Homo sapiens: one gene and its partners. The protein of the gene in region 1 interacts with the protein of each later gene in a biochemical or structural test. Each region holds a gene or a part of one and is shown in the gene's direction. Other genes may lie near its edges. The genes, in order: CYTH3, IPCEF1 and INAVA.

Evidence for each region.
Region 2: the proteins of CYTH3 (region 1) and IPCEF1 form a complex in vitro, tested with the Homo sapiens proteins (one study listed by BioGRID).
Region 3: the proteins of CYTH3 (region 1) and INAVA form a complex in vitro, tested with the Homo sapiens proteins (one study listed by BioGRID).

What each region holds. Positions count from the first base shown.
Region 1 is NC_000007.14:6,160,684-6,169,617, reverse strand, and holds the end of CYTH3 (cytohesin-3), read left to right. Parts: intron 1-3,807; coding exon 3,808-3,884; intron 3,885-4,001; coding exon 4,002-4,073; intron 4,074-4,190; coding exon 4,191-4,345; intron 4,346-4,601; coding exon 4,602-4,674; 3' UTR 4,675-7,839; downstream 7,840-8,934. UniProt on the Homo sapiens protein: Promotes guanine-nucleotide exchange on ARF1 and ARF6. Promotes the activation of ARF factors through replacement of GDP with GTP. Plays a role in the epithelial polarization.
Region 2 is NC_000006.12:154,350,316-154,363,791, reverse strand, and holds the start of IPCEF1 (interactor protein for cytohesin exchange factors 1), read left to right. Parts: upstream 1-6,988; 5' UTR 6,989-7,120; intron 7,121-8,651; exon of another isoform or gene 8,652-8,725; intron 8,726-13,476. UniProt on the Homo sapiens protein: Enhances the promotion of guanine-nucleotide exchange by PSCD2 on ARF6 in a concentration-dependent manner.
Region 3 is NC_000001.11:200,910,058-200,919,988, forward strand, and holds the end of INAVA (innate immunity activator protein), read left to right. Parts: intron 1-1,395; coding exon 1,396-2,080; intron 2,081-3,479; coding exon 3,480-3,572; 3' UTR 3,573-5,685; downstream 5,686-9,931. UniProt on the Homo sapiens protein: Expressed in peripheral macrophages and intestinal myeloid-derived cells, is required for optimal PRR (pattern recognition receptor)-induced signaling, cytokine secretion, and bacterial clearance.

The sequences.
Region 1 (8,934 bases):
GAGATGCGGTAGCTGGGTTCACGCAAGCCTTTCTGAGAGCAGGCGGCCGCTGGGCAGCACGTGAGACATGGAGTGGAGCATCCTGGTGATTTTTTAAAAATTTTATCAGCCGGGTGCAGTGGCTCATGTGTGTAATCCTAGTGCTTTGGGAGGCTGAGGTGGGAGGATTGCTTAGGCCAGGAGCTTCAGACCACCTGGGCAATATAGTGAAACCCCATCTTTACAAAAAATTAGCCTGGCGTGATGGTGTGTGCCTGTAGTCCCAGCTACTAGGGAGGCTGAGGCAGGAGGATGGCCTGAGCCCAGGAGGTTGAGGCTCCAATGAACCATGACTGTGCCACTGCTCTCCCACCTCGGCGACAGAGTGAGACCTCGTCTCAAAAAAATAAACATCAAGGAAGGGTGAGACACGGTGTGACGGGCACAGGCCTCCTCAGCTGGTGGAAAGGGTGTGAGTCCCACAGGTCTGCCATTCCCATTAGGGTCTTTGACCTTGGCCATTGCTCTTTGACTTTTTTCTGGCTGTACCGAGGTTTAGGGGAGTTGTAGATATTTGCCTGAAAACCTAGTACCATGGTCTTTGGCTCGGGTGCCTGAGAGACCCGATTCAAATCACATTGTGCGAGTGTTCTAGAGTGAGGGCCGGTGGGGGGGAATGTAACCGGAAATGCCGGCAGGCACTCTGGGGCCGGGATAAGTGGGATGTTCGTTTGATTAGATGCCTCCCTTCTGGTTCCTGCGTTGCCCACCAGTGTCCCCTCGAGGGACAGTGACGCCATCAGCCTGCCTGGCAGCCAATGTGACCCCTGCCACCAGGGAAAGGTCGGCTCTAGAGACGTAAGTGTGTGAATGAAATGAAGGCACAGCAGAGCTCGTGTTGTCTAACCTGTTTTCTGGTTGGGCAGATAAACAGGCCATGAAATGAGTGCACACAGTGCTCACGGGAACCAAGAGCTGGCTGGGCGCCGGGTGCCAAGCGCAGGGGCCCTGGAGGGGCTGGTCCAGCTGGCGTGGCCTCAGTGTGGTGGGCGGCCCGGTGAGCACCTGCTGCTCTAGGGGCTGGCTTCCTTGTCCTCTCCCAGCACCCTGTATGTCTGCTGTGTTCTCAGAAACAAAGTTCGAGACCAAAGGCTGGCGAGCCAGGGCCCTGGCTGGAGGCAGACGAGATGGGTGCAGGATCTAGAACGTGCTTCCAGGCGTGTGCTCAGCGGGGAGTGCGGCCTGGCTTGGTTGCATTCTTATTGTAGATTTGCTTTTAGAACAGGTGGTCTTAAAAAGGCCTGGATGCTTTGCCAGAGCGTAGGAGCCCTGCTGTGTACACAGGCGTGGCTTACGATTGTTGGTAACTTAAGACTTCGAGTCTTGAATCAATCACCAGAAAAAAAAAAAAAAAAAAAATCCTAGGAGGTGGCCCAATCCGAGCTGCCATACAGAAAGTGTGTGCATGTGGACCTGTGTGTGCACGTACGCGCCTGCCTGCTAACGGCAATGAAGACAGAAACTTACAGAGAGAAAGTGGCTCCCATCTGCAGGTTCCAGAAGCCAGGCTCTTGTCTGCAGGCGAGAATGCTGTGTGGTGTGGCCAGAAACAAGTGTGAGCAGAGCCTGCTCGGCTCTGAGACCAAGCTTATCACCCCTTCCCTGGGCCTGCAGTCCTGGTCTGCAACGACCCCCTGGCCCTGAGGACTGGACAGGGATGGGGCTCTGCATGGGAGGTGTGAGCGGGGGACCCAAGGTGGAGCTGAGAGGCCACCTGGCAGACCCCTCCCAGGCGGGGCCAGGTGTGTGGGCTAGTGGAACATACAGGTCCTTTGCTGTCCACCATGCTGGGAGCGTGGAGGAAGAGAGCAGGCGCTGGACAGAAACACACAACCTGGGGGCTCCTGGATGAGCTCCCCAAGAACTGGAGACTCAGATAACAGGGCAGGGAGAAAGGCCACAGCTGGGGAGCCAGGAAGGGCAGCCCCTGCTGCCGCCCAAGGAGTTGGGTTTAAAGCTGAGTGCAGTGGGACCCTTTGGGGGGCTTCAAGCCGGAGGGGCATGATTGCCACGTTTTTGAAAAGATGCCTTTGGCCGCTGTTTGGGGGATGGCAGCTGGCACCAGTGCAGCTGGAGCGGGGCCTGCTCTGGAGTCTCTGGAGGGAAGCAGAGGCGACCGTGACAGTGACGGATGTCAGGGTAGTGGAGTTGCTGTCAGCTGATTCTGCCACAGCAGTTCAAGCTGGAGCAAGTGCCTGGAAGGAATCAGCACTGTCCTCCTGTCCCTAGGGTCTCGGGGACATAGAACACCTCTCACTGCTCACTGGAGGACTGTGGGACAAGGCAGGTTGCCCCCAGGGTCTCCTGCCCTCCCCTGTGGACTTGGGCCTCCCTGGTGTGCTGCAGTGGAGGTGGGGAAGGTGAAGGCCAAGGGCTTGCAGAGAGCATGGAGCCCGCGGTGAGACAGGGACACGAGGGCAACAAGGACTTTGGGCCTTGCTGTGGGCCTGGCTGGGTCTTAAAGGGGACCAGTGAGGCGGTGCCACAGTTGGGGCAGAGGGTTCCAGTGACGGAGCAGCTTGCAGGGGTTCGGGGAGTGGAAGCCCCGCCAGGGCTCAGGAGAGATGTTGGGGGCAGGGTCTGAGGGCTGGGGAGATGCAGCAGAGAGCTTGGGGGCAGATTTGCCCAGACCAGGGTCTAGACAGACCCTTTAACAGGTAGGCTGGTGGGACACTGATGAGACTGGGGCCTGTGGGGAGAGGAGGAACAGCTGGAGGCTGGGCTCCTGTTCCAGGCTGGCGGTGGCAACCGCATTGCAGGCTGCCTTAGGCATCAAAGGAGGACGGCAGCACTGAGTGAGGCAGGGGCCAGAGGGTCCCAGAGGGACTGCAGAGACCCGCTTCCGGCCTCCAGTTCCGCTGAGCCAGGCTTCCTCCCACCTGCAGCTGGTTCCTCCTCACCCAGGGTCTCTGCAAACCAGGCCCCAACAGGGAAAGCCCCCTGTGTCCTGGTGATCCATCCACAGAGCCCTTCGCACACAGTCTTGCCTCCAGGCCTCAGCGCCCGTGCTGGCCCCCACTTAGGGAGGGAGGGCTACTCCCCTGCCGGCCTGTCACAGAGAAAGCCGGGTGAGCTCCGCAGCGCTGGAGAGGCATGGGGCAGAGAGGGCCTAGTACCCCAGGGAGCACTTGAGTTCATTGTCACCAGCGTGTATTTCTTTGAATTATTTAAAAAACAAACACCGGCAAGGCTATAGCAGCTGAAGTCAGTTTGTCTCTGCTCAGTGTTTAAGGATCAGAGATTTCCTTCCCTTAGGGAGAGGAGGGCAGGTACAGATGGGGGTACGTGCGTGTGCACGTGTGCTCCAGATCTTGTTACAAAATTAATTCAGTCTCACGATTCCTTGGGCCCAGGGGTGACTGATTTTGATGGATCCCAGGGCTGCCCAAGGGCCTCTGTAATGCGATAACCACCTGACATGGTGGGGTCAGGTCCTGGACAGAGCCAGGCGCGCAGTCCTGACTTCATCACACTGCCATCTCATGTGGGAAAATGACGCCATCCATCCCACTAACTCTCCCAGGAAGCGAATTGTAGCGCGGTTGTGTCATCAAGGGGCCCATCAGTGCCGTGGAGGGGGCGCCGGTGTGGGCGGGGTGGGTGCATGTGGGGCCCTGCGGTGGGAACGCTGAAGGACACCTGAACCCAAGCCTGGCGCCTGGTGGCCTTTCTGAAAACGCAGTGGTCTGTGCAGGTCCAGGGCCCCCTCTTGGACCCGCGGGCTCCCTGTGCACGGAGCGCAGACTCACGGGGCCCTTCTGCTTCTAGGAGGGCGTGTGAAGACCTGGAAGCGCCGGTGGTTCATCCTGACCGATAACTGCCTCTATTACTTTGAATACACAACAGTAAGTAAGGGCCAGGCCTCCTTGCCGCCTCCCAGCAGTCCCGGAGCTGCCCTGGGGCCGAGGGACCCTCAGGCTGGTGACCCACAGTGAGCCCCGCCGTGTACTTTCCTCTTGTAGGATAAGGAGCCCAGGGGAATCATCCCGTTGGAAAACCTCAGCATCAGGGAGGTGGAGGACCCCCGGAAACCCGTAAGCTCTTCCTCCTGAACCTTCTCTCCTGCCAGCCACCTGGGAGCCATCCTCACTGCCTGCAGGGAACCTGCCCCAAGCCCCCCTGACCGCCTCCCCTCTCTCTTTCTCCACCAGAACTGTTTTGAGCTCTACAATCCCAGCCACAAAGGGCAGGTCATCAAGGCCTGTAAGACTGAGGCCGACGGCCGCGTGGTAGAGGGGAACCATGTGGTGTACCGGATCTCAGCCCCGAGCCCGGAGGAGAAGGAGGAGTGGATGAAATCCATCAAGTGAGTGGGGCCTCGGGGGCGGGGCCAGGCCCGTCTTCTCGTGCCGGTTGGAGGGCGGGGGATGGTCTGGAACATGGATGCTTCCGTGTGCAAGAGTGGACCTTCTGTCTCCAGAAACCCCAGAGGGCCGGGCTGCCAAAGCCGACGTTCAGATCTGAGCCTGCGGTCCTGTCTGAGGGGCCTCTGGGGCTGGTGGGAAAGGGGAGGTCTGTGTGTCACCCACGACCTAACCTGTGTGTTTTCCTTTTTTCACCAGAGCCAGTATCAGCAGAGATCCCTTCTATGACATGTTGGCAACGAGGAAACGAAGGATTGCCAATAAAAAATAGCTTTCCTGGCTAAAAGACCCAGGTAAAAGACCCAACCCCAGCAGAAAGACACCGCGGGCGGCCCCTCCGCGGAAGGCGTGGCAGGGAGGCAGTCGCCCTGCGGTGCAAGCTGCTGCTCCAGAGCATACCGTGGCCCAGGTGGTATCCCCAAGGCCTCGTGCCGTGGCTGGGGTCCTGGGAGGTGGTCGCCCTGCAGTGCAAGCTGCTGCTCCAGAGCGTACCGTGGCCCAGACTGATCCTCGAGGCCTCCTGCCGTGGCTGGGGTCATGGTCGGCTGCGCATGTCCAGAAGCATTTCCTTCCTGCGACCATCCCGGCGCCCCTAGGGGGAGAAGCCAGGACAGCAGCTTCCGCTGTCTCCACAGCAGACACGGGACGGATTCCACAGACGGGAGCCTCATTCGTACCATGCCAAACGCATTCACTCGGGGCAGTATTAACCGTTCTAGAAAGCCACTGTTTTATAGCAAAACAGGAAAGGAAAAGCTACCAGTTTTTTATTCAGAATTTTTCTCAGATATATAGGATTATAGCTTTTATATGCCTTTTTATATTCTGAAATTATAACAAAAGATACTTTCTAACAGTAGTATTTTTAGAATGGCAGCTATAAAGTTAACTCCTGGACACAAGTATATACTGTGCACTGAAAAAATATCCATCTACACAGCACCCAAGGGGAGGGCTGGGGGCACCGGCACGGGGGCAGCGTGCAGCCCTGCCCTGTCAGGCTGTCAGACAAGCCCCGGGGGGCAGCAGGTGGGCTCGGGACGGGCTGGGGGAGGGACGGCCATGGCACTTGGGGGCTCCAGGGTGACTCCCATGAGGCCTCCCTTCAACCAGGCTTTTTGGCCCCACAAATACTTTAAGCAAATCATTAAAATTATAACAGTTAATGGTTTGGGGGTGTTTAGGCTGTAACTGCTAACTCCTAGGAAACAGCCTTTTCCCTGGACACAGATGGTCCATACGCTGAGCCACGTGAAACTGCTGATGTTTTGTTTAGATGCACACACATGGCAGCGTTTCATACAGGTCAGCAGGTTAGACCGGCTTTTGACCATATTCATCGCTATTTAAAACCTGTGGCAAAATGAACGCTTATTTTACAGACTTTCTAATTTGACCAGATTTCTTAATGAATAGACACAGAATTAACTAAAAACAGTCTCACCCCATGTAGTGCGCCGTGTCCTGAGAGAGGTGCCCTCCCTACGAGGAGGGAAGAACAGGCCCTGGGGTGCAGAGGCCCGGCACGTAGAGAACCCAGATAGACGCCGGTGGTGGAACTGGTCAAACTCCACGCCCGCCTGGGAGGTTGTCAGGTTGCTGTGGATGTAAGGATAGGAGGTGCCCAGTGCTCCGCTCAAGGAAGGCTGGATCTGGGCCCCACCTACAGAGAGGGCTCAGGGCTGGACCGGGGGCATTGTGTGCTTGGGCCGACCCGGGCCGGTGGCAGACGCTGTTCTCTGTCGGGAGATTTGCGTCCCCAGGACCCTGTTACACAGTGGGCTGTTGGGTTGGTGGCTGGCTTTTCCTCTATGGACTTCCTCTTCCTGCCCCACCTGCATAGGCACACACACCTTGAATCTGCACCCTCTGGAGGGCATCTGTACTCCTGTGCAAAATGCCCAGTCCAGAGACAAAACCTCAGACTTTGTGCACCTAGGTTTCCTTCTCAGCAGCGGAGACTGTTCTTTGAGTTGCCTTGAAGTGGAGGCCGAGCGGCTGCGGGCCCTTCGCCTCCCTGCGGCTGACCTTGATGTAGCTTTAAGTCACACTAGACTGCAGAGGGGTCCGAGGCCAGAAACCCCTGTCCTGCATCAGACTTTCATTCCCACGTTCTTAGGCTTTGTTACTGATACCTCAAATCGGAAGTTTTAGTTCTGAGAAAGGCAAGTCAGCGTTCTTGAAATGCCTGACTGGTAGATATGCAACTCTGGCCTCCAGTCTTCCATGAAAATAAATGCTGCCTGGACCCCCACCCAGACCACACACTGACGGCCGGCTCCGGCGGTGCCCACCCCTCAGGCTGGCCCGGCACCCAAGACTGGCCACAGCCAGCTCTGTCAGCATGTTGTGCTCGGACAAGCTGTTTCCTTCTTCTGACCAACCCAGGTGTGACCTGGGGATGCAGAGCTTTCTGTTTTGGGTGTTGGGAGAAGCAGCAGGAAGGAGTCGCCAGATGATCAAGCTCCCCCTTTGCTGTCATCTGTGAATGAGCTTCGCCAGGTGGTGGGCACCTGGGAGCCATGCAGAGGCTGTGGTGCTGAGTTAGACTCCAGGTACTTTGTGGTCAAAGGAAATCGCCTAGCTCCAGGCTGTGTTAGGACAGTATTAGCATGAAGGCTGTGCGACCATCATGCCTGCTGATCCTTGAGGCAGGCCTGGTCCAGAAAACTCTGGGTCAGTGACTGCGCAGGGCCAGCCGCTACCAGGACGGCCCTGAAACAGGACACATCTGTTTTTTGTCCCTCACCCTGGGCAGGCCGCGTCACAATCACAGTCCTCCTCCTCCCCACCCTGACGTCTGAGCGCAGGGCTTGAATTGTTAGTCCCAACTCTGGCCAAAGATACTTTTTTCCAGAGACAGAGGCCAGGAGGCAGTGAGGGGAGCCCCGCGGGGAGGCGGCGGCGACTGCCACAGCCCTTCCAGCCTGTCTTGCTGGCCGCCCTGGTTCATATTTGAGTTTAATTGTACTGACCCTGGACCCAGATAAGCAGCAACTTTGTGTCTTTGGGGTCACAGAACATTTTGGGGCAGTTTAATGTGGTACCAAACTGAAAATAGGAGCTATTTATAGATGGAGCAGCACTTAGTGCTTCATAGAAAGCAATGCCTATTTTTAAAGTTACAAACGCAGATATCTACATAGATATGCTTTGCTGAGAAGTTAGGTCTGTGGTAGACCAGAAACCACAAATTGACTTTTTTTCTTAGAAAATATTTCTATTTGCGGTAAATATAGTAATATGTAAATAATGTACATCTGTTGATTTCTGGAGTGTCTGTTATTCAATGATGTATATACTCCCACAGCTCGCATGAAGGAACAGCCTCTATTGATACTTGGTTGTAAAGTGAAGTAAGATTGGAGGGTGGATGGCTGTCAGAGCTCTTGCAGATACTGTGTTCACTAAATAAAAATCACATGTATTGTTAAAACAAGCCTAAGACTTGGTTCTTTAAAACAGATATTGTTGGGTCCAGCAAACACCCCTCCAATTTTCCTTTGCCCGTCCGAGGTGGGATGGCCTGGCCGAAGGTGCCGACTTCGGCAGGAGCACTTACTTGAAGGTTTTAAGAAAGTGAATTCAGATGATGACAGGAAGGAGTCTGGAAGCAAATGGGGAAAACAACAGTAAAAAGACGCCAAGTGTGTGATTTGCTGCCATTTATATACTATAGAAATTTTACATGCTGTATATTTACAGTGGGGCAAGTGCTTTTTTAATCTTTAGAAAAACAAAGATCAAACTTTAAACATCTCTGAACAACACAAACTGTATAAACCATACAGATTATTCAGATACAAACTGTATTAAATACAGTTTTCCCCACTCCATCTCCTGATGCAGGACCAGTGAATTATAAGTGTATCACAGTTTGATAGCATATCCATATTAAAAATAAAATCACAGTATGATTGTGTCTGTAACTAGAAACTCGAAGGGACCAAGCAGACAACGGAGACTCCAGTATCAGTGAAGACAAGAGACGCTGTATCAAAAAGTGTTGTGTAATAGAAACATACTGTCGGCTTTACAAATCATGTCTGGGTTATACATTCATAATGTAAATACTCATCATAACTGGGAAATTGATTGATTGGAACAGTTCCACAAAGTTCAAAAACAGAACTTGTCTATAAAATACATCTTCAAATCTTGAATACAACTAAAATAAGCAAATTAGTTTCTAGTATCAGACATTACAGAAAACAGACTGCTCTCCAAAGTCTAGGTGAGAGCTTGTGAGTTTTTAAATAAGTCTTTAAATTAAATATACACACTGTCAGTTTGTACTTTTGACAATTCCATGGTCTCCCGGTTGGTCTTGCACCAGATGTCTAACTTGGAGGAACATTACATGAAATACAAGTAATCGACCTGAGTCTGTAATTAAGCAGCATTTGAGATGTTCTATTCCAGGGCATTATTTCAATGGGATTTATATACACGGTATTTTACAATGGTCAGCAGTGGTAGAAAGTGTTCGTCCATTCGGAATAAGGGTAATTAAGAAAAGGTAAAAACTAAA
Region 2 (13,476 bases), on another chromosome or scaffold:
TACAAACCATAGCTTTTCTGAGAGATGGATTATGTCCTTGGATCTTGGAGTATAAAATTACAGCCCTCACAAGAAAAATATAGATAAGTATCAGTTAGGGAAGATGGTCATTTTAGTGAGGGCCCTGTACTAGATCATGAGGATACAAATCTCAAAAATGATGCATCCTTGCTCTCAGAGAGCTGACAGTCCAGCTAGAGAGGCAAACTTAAAAACAGGATGGCTCCATAATTTGTGGGATCCAGTTCAAAATGAAAATAGGGGACCTCTTATTCATAAATTATTCAACATTTCAAAAGAGTGACTGCAGAGCATTAAACTAAGCACAGGGCCCTTCTAAGGACCGGGACCTTGAGAATGCATGTCGCATGCCCTGATTCACCATCATTATAATAACACAGGACAATGTGCACTGGAGACATGCACGGGATGCTGGGAGAACAAGGAGGGAGGGGCTAAATCTGAGGGATGGGGAACACTTCACTGAGGAAGTAACATCCTAACATCAGGGCTAAACCTTGAAGGGTGGACCAACTTTTGCTAAACAGGGACAATTGGAGATCCCGGGGGTCTCCAGGGAGGGGGAACTAAGAGGAAAGCCACCTTCTCCTGCTGCAGCTGTCTCCACTCCAAGCTGATCACACAGATCTTGTGTGTTATAATTAACTCCCTGGTTAGTGCTCGTCAGTTACTTGGGTAACTTTTAAAATAATATGGTCCCACTTGTTTCTTGTTTGTGGAGAATCTCAATCAATCCTCAAATTGTAAGTTGGCTCTCAAACCTCTCTTTCCACCTCTCATGTCCCCCAGGGCTCTCCAAAGAAACTTTCCAGATGAAGAGAAATGCTCCATGTCTGTGCTGTGCAAGATGGGAGCTTCTGGACACCAGTGGCTACTGAGCACTCGAACTGTGGCTGGTGCAACCAAGGAACCGAAATTTTTTTTACTTAATTTTTATTTTACTTAATTTTTTTTACTTAATTTTTATTTTACTTTATTCTAATTAGCTAAAGCTTAATTTTTAGTAGCTAGTGGCTGCCATCAGAGTCCAGCATACTTTAACATTTATATTGTCTTAATCTTTTCTCTTTTTTTTTCTTTAAAATATACACAGAGACAGTGTCTCCCTTTGTTGCCCATTCTTGGCTTGAACTCCTGGGCTAAAGCAGTCCTCTTGCCTCAGCCTCCCAAAGATGGGATTACGGGTGCGAGCCACCACACTCTGCCACTTACAGTATCTTCTTGTTTTACATGTTTTCTCCAGATCTTGATCCTCAAAATTGAAAATCAGTTGTGAGTATTGCATTATTATGCCTGTAAAAATTATCCTTAACTTCACAAGCCGAACAGTATAGAGTAATTCCATTCTGTTCCTTTACTGCTTTTATTGTTATTTCTTGATGTTTTCTAATTGTTTTTCTATTTTTCTTTCTTTGGCTGCGCTGCCCATATTGGTTACTCCATAATTTCAGGGGTGGTATCACGCTCTGTGATTCCATTTTCCCCTGAATACTTTGCTTTTGGAAACTTTTCCTCTCTTACCGAGCTCCATGCTGATGTTTGCTGTGTGGTTCAGCTGCCTGATTCCCATCCAAGGATTTCCCTTTGCAACGCTCCCAGGTTGAGTCTTCTGTTTCCCGGATTCCACCACTTCCATTTTTTAGTTTACTCCCTTATTTTGCTGGGGTCCATCATCAAGTAACTTCCTAAGAAGGTATGTGGAGGCTGGGTGCAGTGGCTCATGCCTGTAATCCCAGCACTTTGGGAGGCCGAGATGGGGGGATCACTAAAGGTTGGGAGTGCGAGACCAGCCTGGCTAACATGGTAATACCCTGTCTCTACTAAAAATACAAAAATTAGCCAGGCGTGATGGCAGGCGCCTGTAATCTCAGCTACTTGGGAGGCTGAGGCAGGAGAATCGCTGAACCTGGGGGGCAAAGGTTGCAGTGAGGTGAGATCATGCCACTGCACTCCAGCCTGGGCAACAGAGCAAGACTCTGTCTCAAAAAATAAAAATTAAAAAAAAAAAAAGAAAGGATTTGTGGGCAGTCAGCCTTCTGAGTCAGCTCTGATATATCTGAAAACGGGCATGTTCTACCTTCACACCTAATTGATGGTTTCATTCAGGGATCAGCAACCTACTTTCCACGGGCCGCTTTTGGCTTGCTGCCTATTTTTGCACAGCTGGTAAGTTATGACAGTTTTTTACATTTTTAGGTGCTTAAAAAAATCAAAAGAAGAAGATTTTGTGATGCGTGAAAATTATAGGCAGTTCAAATGTTAGTGGCCCTAGATAAAGTTTTATTAGAGCACAGCTGCTCTTTTACATGTTATCTATGGCTGCTTTGATACCACAATGGCAGGGTTGAGTAATTGAACAGAGATTGGCCCACGAAATCTAAAATATTTACTATCTGGCCTGTTCCAGAAATAGTTTGTCAGCTCCTGGTTTAGTTGGTCAGAGTCAAAAACCCAAGTTCTCACAACGATCCCCATAGGACCTAACCATAATCATGGGTTCCCCGGCTCCCCTCTCCATCTCTGACCCGCTCTGCTCTGTTCCAGCCACACCTGCCCCCATGCTGTTCCTGCGGCACCAAAAGGCTCTGGGGGTGGCAGGATGTTTGCATTTGGGGCTCTGTCTGCGGATTTCTCTTCCCTTAGCTGTCTACACAGCTCACGCCTTCACTTCCTCCAGGCTGTCACTCAGAGGTCACCTTTGTGAGTCCTTTGCTGGCCTCCCCATCTAATTTTTAGCCTCTCCTTAGACTCTATATATTTCCTCTGCTGATTTATTTTTCCTCCTTAGCACTTACTTCTACCTAACACATTATATTTTACTTTCTTTGTTTGTGTAGAGAGTACACCATCCTGATCTGAGCATGAGAAAAGAAGTTCCCTGAGGGCAGGACTTTATTTGGTTCACTGCTGCGTCCTCACTGCCTAGACACAGTGCTCAAAAATATTTGCTGAATGCTATGGCTAGGCTTTGTGTCCCCACCCAAACCTCGTCTTGAATTGTAATCCCCATAATCTCCATGTGTCAAGGGAGACACCAGGTAGAGGAAATTGAATCATGGGGGTGGTTTCCCCCATGCTGTTCTTGTGAGAGTGAGTTCTCATGAGATCTGATGGTTTTATAAGGGGCTCTTACCCCATTACTCAGCACTTCTCTTTCCTGCCACCTTGTGAAGAAGGCGCCTTGCTTCCCTTCACCTTCCACTGTGATTGTAAGTTTCCTGAGGCCTCCCTAGCCATGCTGAATTAAACCTCTTTAATTTATAAGAGTCAATTAAACCTCTTTCCTTTAGAAATTACCCAGTCTCTGGCAGTTCTTTATGGCAGTATGAAAATGGACTAATACACTGGATGAATGAACACAAAATTCTAGAGTGAAATATAAATCCTTCAGAACTTTGAAGGCTGTGCTCGCTGACCTTCTAACCCTTAATGCTACTTCTGTGAAATCTGGAGCCCTTTGATTCCTTGTTTCTGTGAAAGTGACTTATTTTCTGTGTTTGGGAGATTTTAAGATTTTCTCTTTATTTCCGGAGTTTGGAAATTTTGCAGTGACTTGAAATTCTTCATCCTAGGCACTCGATGAGACTTTTTAATCTAAATATTCTTGGACTTCAGGGGGATCCTTTATGTTATTTCTTTGACTATGTCATCAAATAATATTTCCTGAAAATTTCACTTGAATTTATCACCCAACCTATCAAAATCTTTATTTAACAATTATATTTGCAATATCCAAGGGGTCTTTCTTGTTTTCAGATTATCTATCTTTCTTAGCATCCTGTTCTTTTTAATGGATACAATATCTTCAGGACTGTCTCTAAGGATACTGATTAGAAGCATATCTAGGCCAGGCGTGGTGACTCATGCCTGTAATCCCATCACTTTGGGAGGCCAAGGTGCACAGATCACCTGAGGTCAGGAGTTTGAGACCAGTCTGGCCGGCATGGTGAAACACTGTCTCTACTAAAAATACAAAACATAGCTGGGTGTGGTGGCACATATCTGTAATCCTGGCTACTCAGGAGGCTGAGGCAGGAGAATCACTTGAACCCTGGAGGCGGAGGTTGCAGTGAGCCGAGATAATTAATGCCACTGCACTCCAGCCTGGGTGACAGAGCAAGACTCTGTCTCAAAAAAAAAAAAAAAAAAAAAAGCACATCATCCATCATCCAGCACATGCTAGATGAGGCTCTTATTGCCAGAATGTGGAGTTCTGACTGTGGAGTGCTCATATCCACATACAATGCCTGTATTCTCTGCATGATTTCACTATGTGTAGAGACGAATCCTCGGTATGCTGCCCGGGGTTGGAATTGTGTGTGTTTGCTGTGCAGAGGCTGGGCGGACAGAGAGATTTGAAAGAGGGGTATGGGAGGGGCTGAGTTCTTACAGACTTTGAATTACTCTTCCTGTTTTCAGTCCTGTCACCCTATCACTCATTTAGCTCTCTTAGCTTCTTTTGGCTTGAGTTCCGGTCCTCTCAGGGATTCAGCACCGCACACGGGCAATTTCCTCCAACGCCGTGTTCTCCTAACTAATGAGATATTGTGGTTCCCCTGCCTGCCTCCATCTGTTATTGCTCCTCCATCGGCTTTCAGGCTGCCAGAAATCTGTTGTGCTCTCCCAAGTTCTGATGCTTTTCCTCCTTTTTTGGGTTATTGTGGGTTTATATCTTTTTTTTTCTTTTGAGACGGAATCTCGCTCTGTCACCCAGGCTGGAGTGCAGTGGCGCGATCTCAGGTCACTGCAACCTCCGCCTCCCAGGTTCAAACGATTCTCCTGCCTCAGCCTTCTGAGAAGCTGGGATTACAGGCTCGTGCCACCAGGCGTGGCTAATTTTTTGTATTTTTAGTAGAGACAGGTTTCACCATGTTAGCCAGGATGGTCTCGATCTCCTGACCTCATGATCTGCCAGCCTGGGGCTCCCAAAGTGTTGGGATTACAGGTGTGAGCCACCGTGCCCGGCCCTATAAACTTTTTATACTTTTCTCATTTTAACGGAGTCTTTGGGGAGGGAGGGAGCAAATCTGTGGTCAGCCCGTCATCTTGAACTGACAGTCCGGCCGTTTTGAGGATTATTCTAATTCTACAAATCATCTTTGCTCAAAGAATTTAAGTGGCTCTATTCTGGCCCCATAAAGGTAAATAACATGTCTTTTGAGGATATCTTTGATGATGGCATCTAAATGTCTGGTGAGAAGCCAGGCCATGCTGTTGATACCACTAAATTCCTTTAATATCACCTAGTACCATTTTTTTTTCTACGTAAAGCAGGGAACTAGAAGACAACTCAATATAGGGAGAAGATGAGGCAGCACTTCCAGAAATAGAAGTGTACACAAACAAGAAGCCGCTGAGAGAACCTTCATTTTGTTCCTGCTCAAAATGTACAGCATCTTCTTTCATTTTTTCACTCCTCCACAGATTTAGTTTACATTTTATCTTTGTCTTAGTCATTCAGGCTGTTATATCAAAACACCGTAGCCTGGGTGGCTTACAAACAAAAGACATTTATTTCTCACAGTTCTGGAGGCTGGACATCCAAGATCAAGGCGCCAGCAGATTCATTGTCTGGTGAGGACCTGCTTCCTCGTTCCTAGGTGACTGTCTTCTGGCCATGTCCTCATATGGTGGAGGGGTGGGCAGATCTCCAGGTTCTCTTTAATAAGAAAATTAATACCATTCATGAGGGCACTGTCCTCATGACCTAATCACTCCCCAAAGGTCCACCTCTAAATACAATCACATTGGGGATTAGGTTTCTATATATTCTATATATTCTATATATATATATATATATATATATATATATTTTATATATATATTATATATATATATTTTATATATATATTATATATATATATTTTATATATATATTATATATATATATTTTATATATATATATATTTTATATATATATTTTATATATATATTATATATATTATATATATTTTATATATATATTATATATATTATATATATTTTATATATATAATATATATATTTTATATATTATATATATATAATATATATAATATATATATTATATATATAATATATATATAATATATATATTATATATAATATATATATAATATATATATAATATATATATTATATATATATATTATATATATATATACACATACATATTTATTTATTTATTTATTTTGAGTTGGAGTCTTGCTCTGTCTCCTAGTCTGGAGTTCAGTGGTGCGATCTCGGCTCACTGCAACCTCTGCCTCCCAGGTTCAAGCAATTCTCCTGCCTCAGCCTCCTGAGTGGTTGGGATTACAGGCATCTGCCACCACGCCCAGCTGTATTCATTTCCCTAGAAGGTATAGAGAAACAAGAAGCTGGTGTTGAAAGGGAGATTGGGAGGGCAGGAATTTGTAATGAGATGGAATATCTCTGACTTTCAGCCTGCCATTTTCCTTTTCCAATGTGGGAAAGAAAAGTTTTGTGGTTAGAGACTCTTCTATGTCTACTGCAAAAGATGGCAGGCTAAGACTTATTTTTATCCTAAAATACGTTTTACAAATGTGTCTGTACCCTCTCTTTATTAGAGCATTATGAACGATTAGGAAAGGAGGAAAGAGGGAAATCTGAAAGAAGATTGAACCTAAAGAGGTTGAAGTGGCATTTCACCCAAAAATGCTGAGAATGACTCTGCAGATCATCTCACCCTCCATGCCTGTAAATGAACATCCTTGCCTCCAAAACAGGAAAGCAGAACCATGAACTGTTCCACCAATGTGCTCGGCAAATGAATACACTGGGCAGTGCTTAGTGATCAATGAACTCAGGCAGATGGGGTGTGCTTGCCTTACATGTACTGTGTCCTGGATATGGGCATCAAGGAAGGGTTTCATAACAATGAGAAGGAAGAACGTTAGGATTGAGGAAGTGGAGATGATACTTCCTCTTCTTTCGAAAGAGCTTTACTCTCTGATCAGCTTTGAATGTTAGTTCTGGGTTGACTGAGTTTCCAGAGCTGAGGCTGCTTTAAGTAGAATCCTCAAGCTTGGCCTCAGAGTACTATGAGGCTTCTGAATCCAGGAATAAGACTGCTCTTGGATTTACTCTCTTTGTATTGCATGTAAGTAACGTCACTTCTTGGCTGATGTATGAGAGGTAACTGCTTGACAGATCAAGATGGCAAAGCAATGGATACCCTAGCACTCTCCTTAGAGTAGTGAGGTAGGAAATATGACTTTGGGGATGTAATATTCACTCAGCTCTCTGTAATCTGGGAAGCCAGGTGCTAAAGATTCTTTAATTCTGTGAAAGCTTTGAAAGAGGAGAGAGTTGTGTACTCACTCTGCTTTTATGTTTCTTAAATGGGTGTTGTCTTGATAGGTGTTTAGACTGCAGACCACAGGTTTGATTTAGAAAAGCACAATTCAGCATGTATTTGGGTCCTGAGGAGTTCATTTGGGGAAGCACTCTGGGGCCGCCCTCTTTCGAGAAAGTGTGTTCTTTGCAAGGGAGCTTCCTTTGCATGGAGGCAGCTGGGGGACATTTTACACTTTGATAAAGGTCTCAGGCTTGCCAAAATATCTCTGGTATAAAAATGAAAGCTAGGTGTTGTTGGTTCAGAGTCTTTTAGTAAGGGTGTCTGGGGCACTTGATTTTTCTTTGCTGGGGTATATGTGAAAGTATTTAATTATAGAAGTCAGAATTATAACCCACTGAAGCATCTTTGACTACAGCAGTGGGCTCTATTAGTCTTGAGTGGCCTATGTGTTCCTAGTGCTGTCCTTGATAAAGTCTAATTTCTATCGAGTTATTTATTTTATGTAGAAAATTGAAACCGAGGGCTGGGCACAATGGCTCACACCTGTAATCCCAGTACTTTGGGTGACCACGGCGAGAGGATCACTTGAGGTCAGGAGTTTGAGACCAGCCTGGGGGCAAAATAATGAGACCTCATCTCTACAGGAAGAAAAAAAAAAAGAAAGAAAAGAAAATAGAAAATAGAATGCCGGGTGCGGTGGCTCACGCTTGTAATCCCAGCACTTTGGGAGCCCAAGGCGGGTGGATCATCTGAGGTCAGGAGTTCGAGACCAGCCTGGCCAACATGATGAAACCCCGTCTCTACTAAAAATACAAAAATTAACTGGGCGTGGGAGCATGCACCTGTAATCCCAGCTACCTGGGAAGCTGAGGCAGGAGAATTGCTTGAACCCGGGAAGCGGAGGTTGCAGTGAGCTGAGATTGCGCCACTGCACTTCAGCCTGGGTGACAGAGCAAGAGTTCATCTCAAAAAAAAAAAAGAAAGAAAGAAAGAAAAGAAACAGAAATGGAAAGAACACACATTTCTTTCTGCTCACATCATGCAAGCAAGGAAGAAAAGGGTGTAAGTTTGTGTATGTGTTGATGAACTCATTCTTTAATTTACCTTATAATTTCCTTCCATTCCTCTTTTTATAAATCAAGTGTCTTTTCTGGAGTGGGTCCATGTATGAACTATTTCAGGCAAGCTGTGTTAAGCAAATATACATCATCAGAGTATGGAAATAGGAAGTTCTTTCCTGCGGTAGTTTGCTGTGGCAATAAGAGATAAGAAATTACTTCATCACTATTGCCTGAGACTTTCCTTTTGACTCGTGCATCCTTTTGAACAGCTCACTTCTGCTTTCCATCCAGCTTGGAGGCTCTGCAGTGTGAGCTGATAATTGCAGTACAGGTTAACAATTTGCAAGTAGGTCTAATGTGGCAAATGGTGTGTGTGTGTGTGTGTGTGTGTGTGTGTGTGTGTGTGTGTGTGTGTGAAGAAAAATCCTAAAAAATAAGCTTTTTAGCCTTAAAGAGAATCCTGCAAATGGAGGAGTTACTTGTGCTCCCAAGTGCTCAGAACAGTGCCTGCTCTCAGTAAATATTTGTTGAATGAATGAATAACTGGCATAATTCATAAAATGAATGTGGTAGGAAAGCCATTGCTTTATCTCTGTTACTCAGGCACTTTAAAAAGTGAATGTTAGAAAAGATCAGAGTGGAGGAGGAGAGGAGAATATGAAGGTGTGGAGTAAAGAAAGGGTGTGTAGAACGGGGATCAGAAAAATCCCCAGGTCAGTAAAGTGAAAGGGTTGGCGATACATGGTGGTGGAGGTGGAGGTGGAGATAAAGGGGGTGGTGTTGGAAGTGGTGGTCGTAGGGGAGGTGATGGTGGAAGTGACGGTGGAGATGGTAGAGGTGGTTGTGGAGGCGATGGTGGAGGTGGTAATGGAGATGGTAGAAATGGTGATTGGAGTGGTAGAGGTGATGGTGGAAGTGACGGTAGAGATGGTGGAGGTGGTTGTGGAGGAGATGGTGGAGGTGGTGGTGGAGGAGATGGTGGAGGTGGTGGTGGAGGTGGTGGTGGAGATGGTGGTTGGAGGTGACGGTGGAGGTGACAGATGGTAGAAGTGATGGTAGACATGGTGGAGATGGTTGAGGAAGTGATGGTAGAGGTGATGGTACAGATGGCGGAGATGGTGGTTGGAGGTGATGGTAGTAGAGGTAATGGTGGAGGTAATCATGGGAAGGTCAGTATAATTTAGCCAAGAGAAAACACAGTTGGGGGCTCAGACATATCTGTTCAAAATCTATATCTCTGAACCTACCAGCTCTGTGACCTCCGAACCTATAAAGTGGTGACTATAACATATTGACTTTTTGGGTTGTTGTGTGAGGGTTAAAAATATGATTGCATTAAATGGCAGTTATCGATATCAGTTTTCAAGTTGCCAGAGCCACGCTTAAAAATTTAATCTCTAATTTCTCTTTTTTTCTTTATGCTTTGTGCATTTTCTGAATTTTGTAAAGTGAAAGTGAGTTTTTAAAAGAATCATTAATTTAAAATAAATATGATAAGCCTAGTTATCAGAATGGTTGAACACATGGTGGTATATAAAGAAATGTCATCAAGAAAATGATATTTATGGAAATAGTCTCATGATGTAATGCTAAGTCCAAAAAGGAGGAACATAACTTTTTCAACTATGTAAAAATACTGCAGAGAAGCAAGATTTGGGTGAAATGCATTAAAATGTTAATATATGAGTAGTGGGCTTATAGCTCGTGGTTCTTCTTTCTTTGTACTTTGTACTCTATTTTCTTCCCAGATTTTTCATTAGTGGAACATACCTGAACTATTTTAATAATCTGAAAATAAAACAAACGTTGAAAGAAAGTAAATAGGCCCGGGTGCGGTGGCTCTCATGCCTGTAATCCCAGGACTTTGGGAGGCCAAGGCGGGCGGATCACCTGAGGTCAGGAGTTCCAAACCACTCTGGCCAACATGGCGAAACCCTGTTTCTACCAAAAATACAAAAATTAGCTGGGCATGGTGCGGGCGCACGTAATCCCAGCTACTCAAGAGGCTGAGGCACAAGAACCACTTGAATCCGGGAGGCGCAGTGAGCCGAGATCACGCAGCTGCACTCCAGCCTGGGCAATGAGGGAGACTTCATCTCAAAAAAAAAAAAAAAAAAAAGGAAAAGGAAAAGAAAAGAAATGGACAAAAATGTAACCCTCCTTAAATCTTCCACCAACAGGACGACAAAAGCAATGTTTTAGTGATAGTGTGCTGAAGTTCATGGTTCATTGCAGTCTAAGAAATGACACTTAAAATTTATGTTATTTAGTCTTTGTAGGGAAATCCCCTTTGAGAGTAAGGCTGGTGCAGAATCATGTGTCAACTCTGAAGTGAGAAAAAGGAAACGTGGTCCCACTGGGGCTGGCTGGTCTGATTAATTCCTAGAATGACATGAAAATGGGTTATTTTCTCTGGATGACTTATAACTGCGTCTAAACCTGAGTTTGATGATTTCCTAAAAAATGCAATAGTCAATTTGTCAGTTATTAATTATAAGTTAAATTTAAATCTCCCAATATAATTGTTAATACATTTCTTAGGGAATGTTGCCATATGTTTATCATCTTGGTACTCATAGGGAGAGGTCATAAAAACATTTCTATAGAGTCACAGATTATTTTATAGATTCAAGAATTATCATTCCTGTTGTTAGAATCTTGGCCCTGCCGTCTCACAGGGCCAGCAGGTCACCATGGAGTCCCTTATCAGGGACGTAACCAAAATAAAATATTTTGGCTTGTAGGCATTGAAAAGAATCTTCTGTCTTTGTCTTAGAATCAATCTTTGTCTTAGAAAGGAGAGATAGTCGGCAGACAAAAAGGCAAAGGGCTGAACAAATGTGAGCAAAGACAGGTCTCCCAGACTGACACAGGGATTGACATAGAAGCAGCTGAAAGGTGAAAAGTGAGCCAGCTTAAACTCAGCCCAAAGTTACTAGAATGTGGATGAGTCTTTCAAAAGAAGTCTGAATAAAAAAATGACCAGATCGTCAAGGAAAACTAAGTCAAGTTAGAAATGAAAGAATTAATTGAAGAAACAAAAACCCAGCATGCACTAAGCATTGAAATAGAAACAGCAGCAAGATAGGATTCCCAACAGATTCTATAGCATTTTCTGAATATTTCATACGTGGAATGCTGAATAAAAAACCAATGATATTACTGAGCACTTGCTAGGTTCTAGACACTGTGATCTGCACTTTTATTTTTACCTTTTAGTTTACATTTACATTTAGTTACATTTACAATTTCTTTTTTTTTTTCTTCAACTTTTACTTTACGTTCCAGTGTGCATGTGCAGGATATGCAGGTTTGTTACATAGGTAAATGTGTGCCATGGTGGTTTGCTGCATAGATCAACTCATCACCTAGGTGTGAAGCCCAGCATCCATTAGCTTATTCTTCCTGATGCTCTCCCTCTCCCCCGGCCCTCACAGGCCTCAGTGTGTGTTTTTCCGCTCCCTATGTCCATGTGTTCTCATTGTTCAGCTCCCACTTGTAAGTGAGAACATGCGGTATTTGGTTTCTTGTTCCTGCGTTAGTTTGCTGAGGATAATGGCTTCCAGCTCCATCCATGTCCCTGCAAAGGACATGATCTTGTTCCTTTTTATGCTATTTAAGCCACTTCTTAAAACAGTTCTGGGAAATAGTACTATTGTTATCTCCATGAAATTGAAGCTTAGAGAGGTAAAGTCCCCTGCCTCAAACCACCACAATAGGCAGGGGAGAGGGATTCAAACCCAGACCTTTGTGTCTCTGAGCCTGTGGTCTACCATTCTACACATTACATTGTTTTCATTTATGTTAAAGGTTTTGTTATATAAATAGTGATTTGACACCAAGGGCGAGTCTGAGCAGAGCAGATTTGCTCTCTACTTTAAAATCGCCCAAGTGAAATTCTTTTCTATTCCTTAGTGAAGAGATAGTGGAAAGGAGTTGTTCTTTTTTCCAGGAAACTGCCTGTGCCTTGACATGATTGCACATCCGTGATTGTCTTCTTAGGCAGTCAGGTGGTACCACGTAGGAAATGCTTCCAGCCAGCAGGGAACAAAAGGGGACTGGGGGGACCTCAGAACCATTCCTGGGTAGTTCACAACCACAGTCAAGATATGTGACTGTTCCGTCACCACAAAGATCCCTCATGCTGCTCTTTCATAACAATACCCAATCTAATTTTAAAATATTCAATTTCCATTTTGAGTATCATTGGACCCATATTGATGGGGCCTTCTATTAGGCTCAATTTTTTAGCGGGAACACCGCAGATCAAAAGGCTAGGAGACTTGAGTGTCCTGCCTGTAGTATATGATAGTTTTGCGCTACAAGCAAGCATTTAACTTCTCCACGCTTGAGTTGTCTCATCTATAAAAGCTGAGATAAAAATACCAAACCAGGCCAGGTGGGGTGGTTGATGCCTGTAATCCTAGCACTTTGGGAAGCGGAGTTGGGAGGATCGCTTGATGCCAGGAGTTGAAGACCCACTGGGCAATAAAGCAAGATCCCATCTCTACAAAAACAAAAAAATGTGGCCAGGTGTGGTGATGTGTGCCTGTAATCCCAGCTACTCAGGAGGCTGAGGCAGAAGGATCTCTTGAGCATAGGAGTTTGAAGCTGCAGTGAGCTATGATTGTGCCACTGGTGTACAGCCTGGGCAGCAGAGTAAGACTCTGTCTCTGAAAAAATAAAAAAACTAACCAATTGCGTTGATGTATGGGCCAAATGAAAGTAAGCGTATATACTTAGAAGAAAACAAAAATATTATAAACCAATGGAGCCCTTCTTGGAAGCTAATACAGGAGGTAAAGAATGAAAGTAATTTTATGTGCTAGTAATAAGCCCATCTGTATTGCTGGCAAGCACTTCTAGGGGCCAAATTGGACGTGACTCATTTCTATGAAGTTAACTTGTGGCATTGGGCCTCAAACAGTAGAGTCACTTCATCATTGAATGGGAGTGAATAAAGACACTCTCAACAATGAGACACATTTACAAAATGAAAATCAGGCTATTGTGAAATCTATAAAAGATTTTCTTTCATAAATGGAGTCTAGATAGTGATCCCAGATTATCATGACAATTTGGTTACTTGTTAGATAT
Region 3 (9,931 bases), on another chromosome or scaffold:
GAGGAACAGTAGACAGCACTTTGGCACTGTATTTGGGGGCATTTTAAACAGCAGAATCACTAATCAAAGCAAAAACACACACAGTACATAAATATGCCACAAAAAGGACACTGTGCACTTACAGCATGAGAACTGAAACATGAGGGCAGAACATGGCCTCGTTTAACCTCAGAACTTAAAGAGACTCAAATTTGTCACTTTTCTGCAGTGTCCAAGAATGACCATGAAAGCACTGTGTATATTGCTTTGGGGATTAAAAATAAAGTTTAGCAACTAGGAAAATTACAAATACTGAATCTGCAAATAATGAGAATTGACTGTATGTTACTTTCTAAGTCATCTGCTACTTGGTAATAGTTTAAATGGCTAAGCGTTGACAGGCAGTATTGGCCATACCATATGGGGACTGGGGCACCATGAAAGCACTGCTGAATTCTCCATCAGCTTAAATTGGCTGGTCAGGCAGCACTGAACTGGGGGCAGCTTGGGACAACTGCTCTCAAGTAAAGCAATGGATTTTGTTTAATTTTTAAATTTTTTTTGAGGCAGAGTCTTGCTCTGTCATCCAGCCTAGAGTATAGTGGCGCAATCTTTGCTCACTGCAACCTCCGCCTCTCAGGTTCAAGCGATTCTCCTGCCTCAGCCTCCTGAGTAGCTAGGATTACAGGCGTCCGCCACCACACAGCAATAGATTTTATATTTTACATGCTACGAGGGCCATTTTACAAACCATGCCTTTGTGCAAATTAGGAAAAGGCAGACACAGCCCCATACCTGGGTGCATTAGTAGAGTGAAGTGAAGGCTGGATTTCAGCCCCTGCCGGTCTTGGGCTGCAGGTAACTGCTCTGGGTACCACATGACAGCTTTTACACGTTCAAGTAAGGTACCTGGCAGTGCCTACCGAACAGATGCTGTGGATGATCTGCCACTGGACACGGTGTACCTAAGCTGAAAGTACTTAATGTAGTACTTTAAAAAAAGTAGTTAATGTAGTACTTTAAAAAAAGTAGTTAATGTAGTACTTTAAAAAAAGTACTTAATGTAGTACTTTAAAAAAGTACTTAATGTAGTACTTTAAAAAAAGTACTTAATGTAGTACTTTAAAAAAAGTACTTAATGTGCTACTTGATGTAGCACACTTTACACGAATCACAAGCTTGTGAATGCAGCAGGAACACTTTTGCACACAGGGAAGGAATGCGTTGGCACCCACGCAGCCCGGCAGAGGGTTTGTTGGTTTGCTTTGGGAGACTTGACCTAAGACCCTTGCACGAGGGCCATGCTTGGGCCTTGAGGTAGAGCAGGACTCACCTGTTTTAACTCCACCTCCCGCCCCAACCCCAGTGTGGAGTTTCTGCCCCCCACACTCAGAATGCCTCTCTTTCCCTCTTCAGGGTGGATTCCTTCCGGGCGGGTCCTGAGGGCCGAGGTCGCAGCGCCTTTCCCCGCCGCCGCCCCACTCACTACACGGTGACAGTGCCAGATTCCTGCTTTCCCGCGACCAAGCCCCCGCTGCCCCACGCCGCCTGCCACTCCTGCTCAGAAGACAGTGGCTCTGACGTCTCCAGCATCTCCCACCCCACTTCGCCGGGCAGCAGCAGCCCCGACATCTCCTTTCTGCAGCCTCTCTCCCCTCCCAAGACCCATCGTCACCGCGGGGCCTGGGTCCCAGCCGGCAGCAGAGAGCTGGTCGCCCACCACCCCAAGCTACTGCTGCCGCCTGGCTATTTCCCGGCGGGGCGGTACGTGGTGGTGGCTGAGAGCCCCCTGCCGCCTGGCGAGTGGGAGCTGCGCCGCGCAGCCCCGGGCCCTGCTTACGAGGAGGAGGGCACTCCCCTGCGCTACCAGCGTCTGGTGCCCTCCCGCAGCCGCATCGTGCGGACGCCCTCCCTGAAGGACAGCCCGGCAGGCCGGGGGCTCAGCAAGGCCGCCGTGTCCGAGGAGCTCAAGTGGTGGCACGAGCGTGCACGCCTCCGGAGCACCCGCCCCCACTCACTGGACCGCCAAGGAGCTTTCCGGGTCAGGAGCCTGCCCCTTGGGAGAGAGGGCTTCGGACGAGCCCTGGGACCCCGGGCACAGGTACGGCTGCTCTGGAGGGACCCCGGGGCCAGGCAGGAGGGCTGTTTTGTTGGGGAGGGGCTGCAATTCTAGTATGTCCAAGGGTACAGAGGCATCAAAGCAGCAACCTAGTGGCCGGGTAATCCCCGTCTAGGAAGAACAGGCCAAAAAATCATTTCCTCTTGGCTTTGGAAGGCACTCTTGGCTTCCCTGGGGCACCTCCTAATTTTGCCTGCCATGTCTAGCTCAAGAGCATATACACTGGTGGAGATGATCCCCGAAGATAGCTGAGACTTTTTCTCTCCCTAAATGATGATGCACAAAGCAGATAAGCCTCTTCATAATCAAAAGTCCAGTCCAAATCAGCCCCTCAGATTTCCATTTGAAGGTCTAGGACAAAGGGAGAGTAGGAAATGAGTTGCAGAAGCCAGAACCTGTGATTTTCTGGGCATCAGCATCCTCCCTGACACCCCTCCTCACCACCAAGCCGAGAAGAAGGGTGGCATCAGAGTTAAGAGCACCCACCCTCAAGCTAGACCACCAGGTTCAAATCCCAGTTCTGCCACTTACGAGCTGTATGATTGGGCAAGTTACTTAACCCCTTTGGACCTAGTGTTTCCTCCCCTGTGAAATGAGAGTAGTAGAGTACCTATCTCATAGGGCTGCCAAGAGGCTGAAATGATTAGAGCAATGCATGGTAAGCGCTAGATATGTGATATTATTATCATCTGGGGCCACAGAGGCCAGGGAGCAGGCTGGAGGGTAGTATATAGGATAGAGCACCCTGACACTGGGTAGGGTGGCAGCCTTGGTTTCCTTGGCCCCTATTTCTTCATTCTGGAAGTGGGGAGCCACACACAGGAATCCTTTCTTTATTCTTTCTCCCTGGTACGGAGGGCTCTGCAGGTGATGTGCTCCAGAAGTTACCAACAAGCTGCTTCTTTGAGACCCCAGATTCCCAGCAGACCCAGCTGCGTGTCCCTCCCCCACCCACGGTTCTTTGGACTGCAGCTGGCATCCTGGGCCTGGCAGCACCCTGGCCCCGGTCCGAGGCCGCGCCCTCCAGCTGACGTGCTTTTCCCTTTCTGCGCGCTTGGGCCTGTCCTTGGCTGGATAGACCCAGCCCATCCCAACGTGCCAGACAGGGAGGGTGATGAGAAGTGAGCCCAGGAAAGGTGGGGGAGGAGGAGGTCAGGGCGCCTGTCACACCCCAAAAGAACATGGAGGAAAATGTGTAAAGGGGGTCCCTGAAGAACAGAGAGCATCCTGGGAGGAAGGGGCTGAGTGCCAGGGCCTGCTGCTGCTGCTGCTTCTGCTGGTCAGTGTCCCTAAGGGATAAGGATGGTGTAACTGTGCCTGCTGTCCCCGCTTTTCTGCCTGGTTCATTTACCCACCTGTCCTTTCTTCCTGACCCTGGCAGGTGCCCACAGTTTGTGTGCTGCGGAGATCGCCTGATGGGGCCCCTGTGCAAGTCTTTGTACCTGAAAAAGGAGAGATCATCAGCCAGGTGTAACTCTGCGCCCCACGCTGGAAAAAACTGTTTCATAGAGGGGCTGGGCTGAGACCCCCCCACCCCTGAGTGCCTCTTTCAGCTCCCCCATCCCCATCGCAGGCCGATGACCTGGAGCTGAGACCTTTTATTATTTTTTTTTTACACGACTTTTTTCAGAAGCCCTGACCTAAGGATTTATATATGTGGATTGTCCTCAATACCCCTGTGATATGATTATGTTTTATCCCCCAGAGTTTGGCCTACTGGACTTAAGGCCTTGCCTGTCTGACTGACAGCCTCTATCTCCTTATATAAGACAAGTGGCAGGGGACGAGTGAAGCAGAGTGAGCCACCTTGGGAGTTCTCCAACGCTCTGTGCTCTGGTTCTAAGAAATTCCCTGGGGAACTGCCCCTGGCCCTCCTGTCCCACTATTGCTGGAGGCTGGACATGGTACATACTCATGCACATGACTCTCCCCCATTTCCCAGGTCTCTGGGTACCCCAGCCTGGGCTGGGGGAGAATCTCTTCCCCCTTTTCTAATGTGCTCTGTGATGCACACACCAAGTGGTAGGTCAAAGGTCAGTATATCCCGGTGGTGTATTGTCTTGCTAGACCCTGCTATTTTCCTGACCCCCTAAATCCTCTTTAGGGACCCAGTCACTATACCCTGTCTATGCCCTGTGGGCTCCCAGACCCCTGAGCTTTGAGTCAGTGGCATCACAGTTTGTAGCCTCAGGGGGTCTGGCTGGGGGCTGGTCCATGCTTGTGGTTAGTGGACAGCAGCCACCCTTTGACAGCTACCTCTGGGCATCTCAAGGGCTTGCAGCCCCACTGCTCCTTCTAACATTTTGTTTGTTTTTGAGATGGAGTCTCGCTCTGTCGCCCAGGCTGGAATGCTGTAGCAAGATTTCGGCTCACTGCAACCCCCGTCTCCCGGGTTCAAGCGAATCTCCTGCCTCAGCCTTCCGAGTAGCTGGGATTACAGGCAAGCACCACCATGCCTGCTAATTTTTTATTTTTAGTAGAGATGGGGTTTCATCATGTTGGCCAGGCTGGTCTCGAACTCCTGACCTCAAGTGATCCACCTGCCTTGGCCTTTCAAAGTGCTGGGATTACAGGCATGAGCCACCGCACCTGGCCCTTCTAACGTTTTTTCATCATAGTCCCAAAAACCAATACTTTACAAGTGGTTTTGGAAAGGCACCACTTTTGTGGCATGTTCTGGTTGGGAGAGGGAGTCACAGTTCCTACTCCCCCCACCAGCTATGCTTCTGCTCTGAGAAGGTGGTTATTTATACAAACATGGACATACTCACTCCCAAGGGCTGATGAGATGCTGAATTTTCTTTGGGGGCATTCATTAATTGTCCCAGCTGCAGCGACTGGAGCAAGTCTGGAAGCTGCCTGTGCTAAGACCACCCAGCTGTCCCTGGGTTCTCATCCTAGGGCCTTCTTTGCTTCCAGGTCAGGGGACCTGCTTCAATGAGAAAGCAACTGAATTGAGGCTAGGAGAGGTAGGGAGAGCTGAGTTCTGACTTCACCTGTGCAGAACTCTCTGCCCCCATGTTACCTGGACTGGAACAGACTGTGAATATAGCAGAAGGTTCCAAGAACTCTGGTGTCTGACCTAGAAGAGGCACAGTTCTCTCTACTGGAAAGAAAACGATGTAGCCGATTGCACAAGGGTGCCAAGGGAAGACCCAGGATGGCCCATCAAAGGAACCTGGGGGAGGATGCAGGAGGCTGAAGGGATGCACCTGGCATTTCTCTCACTGTGCTCTTACCGCATCAGCAACCCCCAACTTTTGGGCCTACTCTGCCCCCCATGCGTGAATACCCTGCTTGGATGCTGTGCTTTTCCGGTTTGTCTCTAAGCCCCTTTCTCCAGGGCATGTTGGTTTCCCTGGCCTCTCAGTGTCCTAACTGGAGCCCAGAGTGCCTTGTTCTGAGCCAGGAGACGGCTGAGCACTGGCCCTCCACACCTAAGCGTCCTTTACATTAACTTATTGGTCTTGTATAACACCTGGTGCCATTGCCAAGTGGCTGTGTCCTCAGCTACAGAGCTGGAATTGTGTGGGGTTTAGTGCTAAATACTTCAATAAAGTCTGTTTTTTGTGATTGGCTGAGCTGGGGATGAGGGATTTTTTATTTTTATTTATTTTTATTTTTTGGTGTGTGTGTGTGTGTGTGTGTGTGTGTGTGTGCGCGCGCGCGCGCGCCAGGTTTCCCCGAGCAGAGGCTGAGCCCGGCCCCCTGGGCTGCCCGCCAAGGTGGCCAAGTTGCCCGGCCCCTCCAGCTGGTCTGGCCAGGTCCCTGGGGAGCTGGTGTGATGGGTTGGGTGGTAGAGGGAGGCTCTCAGATTCTCTGCTTCCGGGGCAGGGTGGAAGCCAGCACAACCCCTGTCAAGGCTCCTTACAGCCTCTTCAGCTTGAGGAGCTGGCCTGTGGGAGTCACTTCCCCAAGGACAGGGCACTGGCCAGGCAGAGGGTAGAGATGGGTGGCTCAGCGCCTCCAAGCCATTCCTGGAGCTTTGACTGCCCGGAGCCCAGGCTCATGAGAAACAGCCCCTTCCCCATACCTGGAAGACTGGGACCCCTCCTTGGGGTGGTGAGGAGGCGGGGCTCTCCGCAGGCCCCTCCCCCATCGGCAAGAGTGCCCACAGCCCCTCCGCTGCCTGGGGTCCCACTGAGGCCAGGGGCGGGGAGCGCCACCTTGGACACTTCCGTGCTTGCCCTGCAGGGACCGCTCCAGGGCCCCGGAGCACAGCGCCCCCTGGAGAGGCTGTGCCCGGACCTGAGGCGCCGGCGTGTCAGGTAAAGGGGTCCCCCTTCCCGCCAGTTCCCTCCACAGCCAAGGAAGGGGCGGGGAAGGGCCCCGGCCCTCGCTGCCCAAGGGGCGCCTCCAGCCTTGCCTGGGTGCGGCCCTGGGGGCCGCGGGGATCTGTGGGCCTCAGGGGTCTGGGGCACTCCATTCTTGGGGAAGGTAGGGGAGGGGAGACGGCTCCAGGGTCTCTGGAGAAGTTGTGGGGTATCCTGATCTCAGACCTGAGCGCTTCGACCTATTATTTGTGGGGAATGGGGCGCTGGATTCTGTATTTTAGACGATGGTGAGTTAGGCCCGGGGAAAACAGGGTGAGCAAGTTCCCAGGGGATGACCTGTCCAAGGGGCAGCTCCCAACAACAGGACAGAGACCAGCTAAGAGGGGGGATACAAAAGAGACGGACACAGGGGCAGAGCAAGGCCCTTTAAGGCAGTGAGCGATGGGACGCGCCCGTTTGGGGACCCGAAGTGCAGGGCGGTGAGAGAACCAGGTTGCACAGCAGTTTCTTCCTGGTCCACCAGCAGGCTTCCCTGGGCCATGTCTGGGAGGGGCAGACATGTGGGGGCTCTTAGCTCCCCTACCATAGGGCAGAAGTAAGGTTATGAATTAGGGGGTGGGGACAGAAGCCTCTGGGAAGAGGGGACCTCGGGATTTTAGCAGCAAGACTCCCAGAGGCAATTTGGCCTGGAGGCAGAGGGATGGCCACTGTGACCTAGGAGCCCACCTGTGAGTCTGAGATTCTCTATGCTGGAAGATCCCAGAATGGAAGACTACTAGGCAAATCAGGAGGGACCAGGGCCCTTCAGAGGGTCCCGAATCTTCCCATGGGGAAGAAATGGGAAGCTGACCCTGGAACCCGGCACTGGCCCTACTCAACCAATTCCTTTTGTGGTAAATGGGCAGGGTCTGCCTCCTGCAGCTTCCCCCTGGAGTGAGTGCAGAGGCTGTATCCCTAGGAAGGAGTATCTTACACCAGGCCTGCCCACTGTTCTCATCGCAAGCTGCAGGCTGCTGCCCCAAGTGTACAGATGAATCCGAGTTCTAACAAGCGAAAACCAAACAGAGTAACCTTTGAACCATCGACATTACAAATCTCTTGGAAGTCCAGCTTACCGGGTGAGCAGTTGGTTCTGTCTCTCAATTAACTGTGGGTGCTCAGAAGTGGTGGTGATTGCACAAGCCCTCGCTTGAGGTGTACCTAATGGGCACACATCTGCCCACTTCTGGCTACCCCTGTCACAGCTCTAGTCTCTGCATGCCTGTGCTTTTTCAGGCCTGCCTCCCTGAGAAGCCTGGAGCTGAGCCAGGAACAAGACATTGCCTGAGACTTTCAGTGACACCTCCTCTAGCTGACAGCTGTTCAGGAGAGCCAGAACGCTCTCTCTCTCTCTCTCTCTCTCTCTCTCTCTCTCTCTCTATATATATATATATATATATATATATATATAATTTTTTTTTCTTTTGAGACATGGTCGCATTCTGTCACCCAGGCTAGAACGCAGTGGCACCATCATACCTCTCTGCAGAGGTATGACCTGGGCTCAAGCAGTCCTCCCACCTCAGCCTCCCAAGTAGCTGGGAGTACAGGTGCGTGCCACCATGTCCAGCTAATTTTTGGTTATTTGTAGAGATGAGGTCTCACTATGTTGCCCAGGCTGTTCTCGAACTCCTGGGCTTAAGTGATTCTCCTACTTTGGCCTACCAAAGTGCTAGGATTACAGGCATGAGCCACTGCACCCAGGCAGAGAAATCTTTAGATAACATCTACATGCCAACAATTCCCAAATTGGTATCTGCAGTCCAGATCTGCAGTTCTGGAATTCCAGGCTCTTACATCCGACTGCCTATTGATATCTCCACTTTGATGCCTAGTAGACATCTCAAAATTAATATATTCCAAACTGAACTCTTAACTTTATTCCCAACTGCAAATTTGTTCTGTTCCCCACATCAGTTAATGGGAACTCAATCTTTCCAGTGTCTCAAGGCCAAAATTCTTGACTTCTCTCTCTCATACTCACATCTAGCCATCAACTATTCCTATTGGTTCTACCCTCAACATGGATACAGAATCTGATCATTTGCATCTAACCACCTCCCTTGGTGTGAACCACCGTCTCACCTCTGTATTATTGTCATAACCTCCCAGTTGGTCTCTTGCTTCTGCCCACACCCCATGCCATTCTCCACCTCTACTCCTGATCTATTCTCAGCTGAACAGCCAGAGTGCTGTTGTTAATCAAAGTCAGACCACTTTTATTCAAAACCTGCCCAGGGCTCCTGTCCCCAGAGCCAATTGTCTTTACAATAAGCTACGAGTCCCTCATGATCTGCCCCATTACTGCTTTACCTTCACCTCCCACCACTCTTCCCTGCTCCTCCCATTCCAGACACCCAGGCTTCCTTGCTGTTCCTTGAGCTTTCCAGGCACGATCCTGCCTCTGGGCCTTCACACTTGCTGTTGCCTTGGCTTAGAATGCTTTCTTACCAGATATATAAATGGCTTGCCATTCACGTTCTTCAAGCCCACTTAAATTCAATGAGATTTTCTTTGACCTCTGTGTATATACAAACCCAAATGGGCAAATACAAAATAAAAATTCTTTTAGAAGGGTAGTTCCTATGAAGGAACTCCCTGGTGTGTAAGAAGCTCTGTGACAGCAAAGATTATTGTCTCTTTTGTTCCCTGATGTGTCTAGGAGAGTCCTTTTACATAGTAGGTGCTCAATAAATGTATGCTAAAGAATGCACTCATTGATTTCCTACTATATGCCAGGAAGCATTCTAATTTTTTTTCACATATTAATTTATTTAAATCCACAACAATAATAGATACTGTGATGATCATCCCCAGGTTAAGATGTCAGAACTGAAGCTTGGGGGATTTTAGTTTGCTCAAGGTCACTTCTTACATGTATTAAGACTCATTGTTCATTTAATCCTCAAATAATAACAGATAGTATCATCTTCCCTGTCATACAGATGGGGAAGGTAAAGTTGACAGAGTTTAATTTGCTGGAGATCACAGAGCTGATGAAGCAGAGGAGCTGAACTTGGAACTCATGCAGTTTGGTGCCAGGGTCATTGTGTGCAGCTCCCGTGCTTTGGGTCCAAGTCCTATTCTGAGAGGCTTTTCTTGCAGGGCAGTGTGAGAGGGCAGCAGCAACTTGAACTCAGGCCTGTGTCCCATGCTGCTTTGGAGCCCAGTGGTGTCACCAGCTCCTTCCTCTTGCTTTACCTTCTCCCGACTTCACTTGGGGCAAACAGGCTGTATTCCTGGCCTCAACCCTCAGGCTCAGAGAGGCATGCCCTGAAGGCTGTGCCAGTCTAGTTGGCAAAGAAGCCTCCCAGGCTGACTTGGGGTTTCAAGTCCATTCGCAATCAAAACTTTCAAAGTCAGTCTAGGACAGCCCTAGAAATTTGTGGCCACTGGGAGTGACTTAAAGGTCTCCTCCCAATTGTTTTTCCATCCCGGGCCATTGGGCCATACCTGATGCAGAAAGTCTTTTTTTTCTTTTCTTTCTTTCTTTCTTTTTTTTTTGGAGATGGAGTCTCAC